Regions from separate parts of the Homo sapiens genome. Here regions 1 and 3 are each linked to region 2. The links come from fine-mapping of genetic effects on gene expression. A gene starts in region 2. Each other region holds a variant in brackets. All regions are shown on one strand. Distances are between the middles of the regions.

Region 1 (2,759 bases), 34 kb after region 2:
GGACATTCTACAGAATAACCTGTCTATACTCTTCAGAAATATCAAGGTCTCGAAGACAAAGACAGAAGGAGGAACTGTTCCAGCTTATAGGACACAAGAGAGACGAGAGAGACATGACAACTGAATTCAACATGTGATTCTGGTTCAAAAAAACCTTTTTTTTCTTTTTCTCTAAAGCATGTTATTGGAACAATTGGAAAATTCTGAGTAAGGCCTGTAATTAGATAATAGAATTGTACTGATATTAACTTCCTGATTTCTTTTTCTTCTTTTTTTTTTTTTTTGAGACAAGAGTCTCGCTCTGTCACCCAGGCTGGAGTGCAGTGGCCCGATCTCGGCTCACTGCAACTTCCGTCTCCCAGGTTCAAGGGATTCTCCTGCCTCAGCCTCCCAAGTAACTGGGAATACAGGTGCCCGCCACCACACCCAGCTAATTTTTATAATTTAGTAGATACGGCATTTCGCCATGTTGGCCAGGCTGGTCTCGAACTCCTGACTTCAGGTGATCCGCCCACCTCAGCCTCCCAAAGTGTTGGGATTACAGGTGTGAGCCACCGCACCTGGCCTGATTTTTTTTTTTTTTTTTTTTTTTTTTTGAGATAGGGTCTCACTCTGTCCTTCAGGCGGGAGTGCAGTGGTGCGATCTCAGCTCACTGCAACCTGTACCTCCCGGGCTAAAGCAATTCTTCTGCCTCAGCCTCCTGAGCAGCTGAGACCACAGGCATATGCTACCATACCCACCTCTTTTTTTTTTTTTTTTTTTTTTTGGTAAAGACGGGGTTTTGCCACGTAGTCCAGGTTGGTCTCAAACTTCTGGGCTCAAGCAATCTGTCTACCTCAGCCTCCCAAAGTGCTGGGATTACAGGCATGAGCCACCGCACAGAGCCCAACTTCCTGATTTTGGTAACTATAGTATATTGCCCTTATGGAAGAGGTTATCCTTGTTTTTAGGAAATACAGGCCAGGTGTGATGGCTTACGCCTGTAATCCCAGCACTTTGGGAAGGCCAGGCAGGAGGATCACTTGAGGCCAGGAGTTCAAGACCAGCCTGGGCAACACAGTAAGACCCTGTCTCTACAAACAAACAAACAAACAAATTTACCTAGGAGTGATGGCGCCTGCCTGTAGTCCTAGCTACTGGGGAGGCTGAGGCAAGGCGACCACACCTGTGAATAGCTGATGCACTCTAGACTGGACAACACAGTGAGACTCTGTCTCTAAAAAAATAAAAATTGGCCAGGTGTGTGGCTCACGCCTATAATCCCAGACCTTTGGGAGAACAAGGCAGGTGGACCGCTTGAGCCCAGGAGTTCCAGACCAGTCTGGTCAACATGGTGAAATTCCATCTTTATAAAAAATAAAAAATTAGCCAGGCCTGGTGGCACACACCTGTGGTCCCAGCTACTCAGGAGGCTGAGCTGGAGGATTGCTTGAGCCCCGGAGGCGAAGGCTGCAGTGAGCTGTGATCATGC[T/C]ACTGTGCTCTAGCCTGGGTGACAGAGTGAGATCCTGTCTCAAAAAAAAAAAAAGGCCAGGTGCAGTGGCTCATGCCTGTAATCCCAGCACTTTGGGAGGCCAAGGTAGGAGGATCACTTGAGCCCAGGAATTTGAGACAAGCCTGAGCAATATGGCGAAACCCTGTTTCTACAAAAAGTTTAAAAAAAAAAATCAGATGGGCATGGTGGTGCATGCTTGTAGTCCCAGCTACCCAGGAGGCTGAGGTGGGAGAATCACCTGAGACTGGGGAGGTCAAGGGTCAAGGCTGCAGTGAGCCATGATCATGCCACTGCTTTCCAGCCTTGGTGATGGAGTGAGACCCTGTCTCTAAACAAAAAATTAATTAATTAATTATATTAAAATTAAAATACATACATAAGTTAAATTCATGAAACAAAGGAAAGCTTTAAAACACATATATTGAAGGCCAGGCATGGTGGCTTATGCCTGTAATCCTAGTACTTTGGGAGGCTGAGGAGGGTGGATTGCTTGAGCCTTGGAGTTCTAGGCCAGCCTGGGCAATATAGCAAGACCCTGTCTCTACAAAAAATACCAAAATTAGCTGGCAGTGGTGGCACACACCTGTAGTCCCAGCTACTCAGGAGGCTGAGGGGGATGGATTGTTTGAGCCAGGGAAGTCAAGGCTACAGCAAGCCATGATTGTGCCACTGTACTCCAGCCTGGGTGACTGAGCAAGATCCTGTCTCAAAAATCAATCAATCAATAATAAAATTATGACAAAATAAGAGGTTTACAAAGAACACTTTTCGAACATGATTGCCCGTGATATGGGGAAGTGGGTCACAGTGGATGGAGAATTCCTGTTCACTCTATGTCCTGTGATAGTTTTACAATATTGCACTGTATACATATAGTTTTTGAAGTAGATAATTAATCTTTAAAAAAAAAAAAAAAAGGCCGGGCACGGTGGCTCACACCTGTAATCCTAGCACTTTGGGAGGCCGAGGTGGGTAGATCACGAGGTCAGGGATCGAGACCATCCTGGCTAACATGGTGAAACCCCGTCTCTACTAAAAATACAAAAAATTAGCGGGGCATGGTGGCAGGTGCCTTGTAGTCGCAGCTACTAGAAAGGCTGAGGCAGGAGAATCACTTGAACCTGGGAGGCGAAGGTTGTAGTGAGCTGAGATCCTGCCATTGCACTCCAGCCTGGGCAACAGAGCGAGACTCCATCTCAAAAAAAAAAAAAAACAAAACCCTTTCAACTCTGACCTGCAAAATCACTTCTAGGAACTTAGAAAAGA
Region 2 (2,718 bases):
GGTGAAGGCTTGCGCCACGGGAAACTTTGGTAAGGTCAAGCTACGAGGCAACAAAAAGTGAATCACAACGCTGGAAAACACCTTAGGCCTCAACAGAGGCCGAACTCTGGCTGACGGATGGGGAAACTGAGGCCTCAAAGGGAAAGCAACTTGCTCAAGTTCACTCAGCAAGTGAATAGAGCAGGAATCGGGGGTCTCATCTCCCCCAGTCCCCTTTTCTCTCCAGCAAGGAGGCTTTTCAACGAGAATTCTGAGACAAGAGGACAGGGGAGAGGCCAAGGGGCAGCTCACAGATTCCACCGAGGAGTCGGGAGAGGGCACAGGTAGGACCAGGAAGCACAGAAATGCTAGGATGGGGGCAGAAATGAGCCGAGGAGGAGGCAGGGGCAGTAGCTAGGCAGGTGGGTGAGGCGAGAAGGAAAAGGCGGAAGAGAAAGGGACAGAGTGAGGGCGGAGGAAAGTGCTGTGAGATTGGGGTCTGAAGGGACCTGGCGGGGTGGAGAGAGGCTGAGGGGAGAGGGCAGAATAAGTCTGACGATGGAAAAGTCCAGGGATCGGGGAGACATTGAAGGGAGTCGGGGAGGGGGTCCCAGACCCGGCAAGAAGTCTGACCCGGAGAGTTCCAGGGTCAGACCAGACCCCGAGGCGAGTCTGATGAAGGTGAAGTCCGGGCCCGGGGAGCCTGGGGGGAGCCCGTGGCAAGTCTGAAGGGGCCGGGCAGCCTCACCGCGCTTGTTTTTGGTGCCGTGCTTCTTGGCGGCCGTCAGCTCCTGCTCGATTTTCTTCTCCAGGAACTCCTGTTTCTTGCTTAACATCTCTTCCGTGTCCCGCAGCCGCTGGATGGCCTCCTGGGGGGTCGGGCCGCCCTTGCCGGCCTTACCCCCTCCAGCCCCGAACAGCTTCCCGAACACCGACATGGTTGCTGCTCGCCGCGCCGGCCTTCGCCGCCCGCTCCGGCTCGGCTCGGCTCGGCTCGGCTCGGGTCGGCTCCGGCGCCCGCTCCCAGTCCCGCCGCTCCCTGCCGCCGCAGGCCTCTCCTCCGCCTCCGCCTCCGCCCCGCAGCTGGGCCCGGCCGCGCCACCTCCCACAGGCCCCCACGCCCGGCCCGGCAGGCGTCAGGGCAACGCGCCACTGACTACAACTCCCAGTGGGCAACGCGCCGGCCGCGCCTCAAATCTAATAGGGGGAAGCGTGCTGCATGCCGGGAAGCTATAGTCTTCCGGCTTCAGGCGCTCCCCGGCGCGTCTTTTGCTGTAGCTGGGGTCAAAGGGCGTGTGGCATTCTGGGAAATGTAGTCTCCTTGGCCTGCGCTCTGTAGGAGTGGCAGAACAGTAAGAGAAATGACAGTAAGTGTGCAACACTGCTCAAAAATTTATTGCTAGTATGGGATACTGCCATGCTTGAACTTCACATGTATATTCATGTGAAGTTGTCTTAAAAGCGTGAAGGCAACAGTTGTTTCCAATTTCAACCTGTCAATTCTGTGGTCACAGAAGCAAAGCAGTATCTTCTCCAGTTAAGTACGGTAGTGTCCCCCTTATCTGAGATTTTACTTTGAGTAGTTTCACTTGGCCAGCTAAGGTCTGACAGTATTAAATAGAAAATTCCAGAAATAAACAGTTCATAAGTTTTTAATTTCCATTGGCCTAATGAAATCTCGTGCTATCCTGTTCCATCCTACCTGCAATGTGAATCATCCCTTTGTCCAACATACCTCTACCATCTGTTAGTTACTTACCAGCTTAGGAGTTATCAGATGGACTGCCACGGTGTTGCAGTGCTTTGGTTCGAGTAACCCTCATTTTACTATATAATGGCCCCAAAGTGCAAGAGTAGTAATGCTGGCAGTTTGGATATGCCAAAATGAAGCTGTAAAGTGCTTCCTTTAAATGTAAATGTGGAAGTTCTGAGCTTAAGAAAAAAAATCGTATGCTGAGCTTACTGAGGTCTGCAGTAAGAACGAATCTTCTAGCCCTAGAATTGTGAAAGAGGAAAAAGAAATTCATGCTGGTTTTGCTGTCGTACCTCAAACTGCAAAAGTTACAGCCACAGTGTGTGATAAGTGCTTAGTTAAGATAGAAAAGGCATTAAGTTGTATCCTTACTTACAGGGGAAAAAAAGAAAATAAATTTTTTTACAAAAGAAAAGAAAAAGCATTAAGCTTATACGTGGAAGACACGAACAAAAAATGTGTTCCAACTGACAGCAACCTGTTACCCCCCAGAAAGCATTGAGCCTGTATAAAGGCTTCAGCAAGGAATCTCCTAAAACCAGTGGCACCAAGCCACTTACTGAAAGTAATGGATGGTTGCACTGACTTAGGAATAGGTTTAGACTGCAAAATATAAAAATTACTGGATGGGCTGGGCACAGTGGCTCACACCTGTAATCTCAGCACTCTGGCAGGCCTAGGCGGATGGATCACCTGAGGTCAGGAGTTTGAGACCAGCCTGGCCAACGTGGTGAAACCCCATCTCTACTAAAAATAAAAAATAAAAATAAAAAAATTAGCTGGGCGTGGTGGCGCACGCCTGTAATCCCAGCTACTTGGGAGGCTGAGGCAGGAGAATCACTTGAACCTGAGAGGCAGAGGTTGCAGTAAACTGAAATCGTGCTATTGCACTCCAGCCTGGGCGAAAAGAGCAAAATTCTGTCTCAAAAAGAAAAAAAAAATTACTGGAGCCGGGCGCGGTGGCTCACGCCTGTAATCCCAGCACT
Region 3 (2,759 bases), 25 kb after region 2:
AAAGAAAGCAGTAGAACAGCTTAACACAATCTCGTCTTTCTTAGAAAAAAATATAATCCCTACTGGATATGTAAGCTCCAACAAAAAAAAAAGAAAGAAAAAATACAACCTGCACACCCCAAAAAAGCCCTGGCCATGTGTCTCTGTAAATAAACTGAAGATGCAGGAAGAAAGATGGGGAGGTGTAGGGAAAGGACAGACCAAAGTGTCAGTGGCAACTACAACTTGAAGGGGAAATTTAACATTTTACTTTATGTACTCCTATATTGTTTCCATTTTTATAATAACCATGTATTATTTGTGTGGTTTTTTTTGTTTTGTTTTGTTTCGTTTTTTGTATTTTTTTTTTTTTTTTTGAAACAGAGTCTTGCTCTGTTGCCCAGGCTGGAGTGCAGTGGTTTGATCTTGGCTCACTGCAACCTCCATCTCCTGGGTTCAGGCAATTCTCCTGCCTCAGCCTCCTGAGTAGCTGGGATCACAGGTGCGTACCACCACACCCGGCTAATTTTTGTATTTTTAGTAGAGACGGGGTTTCATCACGTTGGCCAGGCTGGTCTCAAACTCTTGACCTAGGTGCTCCACCCACCTTCACCTTCCAAAGTGCTGAGATTACAGGCATGAGCCACCGCGCCTGGCAGCATGTATTACTTTTGAATAATAATTTTTAAAAGCCATAAAGAGCAATTTGGTAATATCAAACTTACAATGCATTACTTCTTTTCCCTTCTTTATTGTGGAGAAATATACATAACAGAAAATTGACCATCTTAAGCTTCTTTTAAGTGTATAGTTCAGTGGCATAAGTACATTTGCACCATCATGCAACCATCACCATCATCTGTCTCTAGAATTTTTTCATCATCCCAAACTGAAACTCAGTATTACACATGCATTTTAACCTAGCATTTCCACTCCTAAGAATATACACTACAGATACACTTCCAAAAGCTTGCCAAGGGACCCACACAGCATTGTGTGTACAAACTAATAGCTGAAATGTAATTTAACGGTTCATACATAGGCTGGGCGTGATGGCTCATGCCTGTAATCCCAGCACTTTGGGAGGCTGGGGCGGGGGGATCACTTGAGGTCAGGAGTTCGAGACCAGCCTGGCCAACATGGTGAAACCACATATCTACTAAAAATACAAAAATTAGCTGGGCGTGATGGTGCACACCTGTAATCCCAGCTACTTGGAAGGCTAAGGCAGGAGAATTGCTTGAACTCAGGCGGCAGAGGTTGCAGTGAACCAAGATCGTGCCATTCAGTCTCAAAAAAAAAAAAAAAAAAAAAAAAGGTTCATACATAGAGAACTGGCTAAATACAAGATGAAAAATTCATTGAGGAAGACTACTCAGATGTGAAAAAGAAGGTGCTGTTGGTAACAACTTCTGGGGGGGGCCCGGGGGAGGGGGACCCACAGAATTTAGCCTCCAGGGGAACTGTAAGCACACATTCCTTGGGGAACATCGCCAAGGTATATGATAAGGAAAAAAAGGCACATAAGTTATAGTATGTGCTCATTTTTGCAAACGTAAGCAAGCGTTTTATATATGTGTAAAATAAAACTAGAAGAATGCAGACTAGACCGCTAACAGTTACCTTTGGGGAAGAGAATTAGGAGTATTTTGCAAACTGCAAACCA[C/A]AAGTTACACCCTGTTGGTGGTTATTTTAAGAATTAAAAATAGGCTGGGTGTGGTGGCTTGCATCTGTAATCCCAGCACTTTGAGAGGCCAAGGTGGGTGGGTAACCTGAGGCCAGGAGTTTGAGACCATCTTGGCCAACATGGTGAAACCCCGTCTCTACTGAAAATACAGAAATTAGCCAGGCATGTGGTGGGCGCCTGTAATCCCAGCTACTCGGGAGGCTGAGGCACGAGAATGGCTTGAACCTGGGAGGCGGAGGTTGTAGTGAGATCATACCATTGCACTCCAGCCTGGGTGACAGAGTGAGACCCTGTCTCAAAATAAAAATAAAAAATAAAAAAACTAAAATTGAAAAGGACAAAATAGAAAACACTGTTTTGTAAAACTTTTGTTGCAATACATCCTATGTGTGCTTCCTGGGTTGCAATATGAAATGTATTTTTTACCATAGGTCGTAGGAAAGAAAAAAAAGGAAAAACATTGGATTGTCCATCTGAAGTGAGAGGGAGTTTATTTTTTTATATATGCTTTTGTCCCGTCAAGGATTTTCCCTCAAGTTTTCTCAATCTTTAGATCCTTTTCAATTAAAAAGCAATTAAAAAATTTAACTAATAAAAAAATCTAAAGATTAATAGAAAAGAAAATGTCAGTGTGTTTCAACTGGGGAACCAAGGAGATGGCGTTTTGTTCAGGTTTGAGTGGGAACTTACAGTGAGAGCAGTGTCCCCACCACAGGGGGCAGAGTCAAGAGTCCCTCACACAGGCTGGGTGCAGTGCCTCACGCCTGTCATCCCAGCACTTTGGGAGGCCGAGGCAGGAGGATCACCTGAGGTCAGGAGTTCGAAACCAGCCTGGCCAACATGGCAAAACCCTGTTTCTACTAAAAATACAAAAAACTAGCTGGACATGGTGGTGGGAGCCTGTAATCCCAGCTACTCAGGAGGCTGAGGCAGGAGAATCACTTGAACCCGGGAGGCAGAGGTTGCAGTGAGCCAAGATCTGCCACCGCACTCCAGCCTGGGCAACAAGAGCGAGACTTTGTCTCAAAGAAAAAAAAAAAAAGAATAAAAAGTCCCTTCCACACAACCTCCAGGGGCTCTTCTCTGCTTTAGC

The links. PIP is the estimated chance that this variant, and not a neighbour inherited with it, causes the effect.
Region 1: its variant is fine-mapped to the expression of CHMP4B in whole blood (TOPMed, PIP 0.99).
Region 3: its variant is fine-mapped to the expression of CHMP4B in whole blood (TOPMed, PIP above 0.99). The same link has a PIP of 0.9 or more in blood mononuclear cells.

The regions. Positions count from the first base shown.
Region 1 is chr20:33,775,160-33,777,918 of GRCh38, reverse strand. The region is part of intron 10 of ZNF341 (zinc finger protein 341); the gene reads right to left. Among named protein-coding and RNA genes, the nearest start is that of ZNF341-AS1, 35 kb to the left of the region's middle. The variant T/C (reference allele first, on the strand shown) is at 1,473.
Region 2 is chr20:33,809,668-33,812,385 of GRCh38, reverse strand. CHMP4B (charged multivesicular body protein 4B) reads right to left here and starts at 1,038. Exons shown (of 5, transcript NM_176812.5): 1 at 728-1,038. The coding sequence starts at 917. ZNF341-AS1 (ZNF341 antisense RNA 1) reads left to right here and starts at 1,287. Exons shown (of 4, transcript NR_110623.1): 1 at 1,287-1,346. RefSeq lists enhancers at 1-483, 1,250-1,329, 1,069-1,363 and a silencer at 910-1,189.
Region 3 is chr20:33,784,565-33,787,323 of GRCh38, reverse strand. All of the region lies in intron 12 of ZNF341 (zinc finger protein 341), which reads right to left. Among named protein-coding and RNA genes, the nearest start is that of ZNF341-AS1, 25 kb to the left of the region's middle. RefSeq lists a silencer at 1,598-1,647. The variant C/A (reference allele first, on the strand shown) is at 1,646.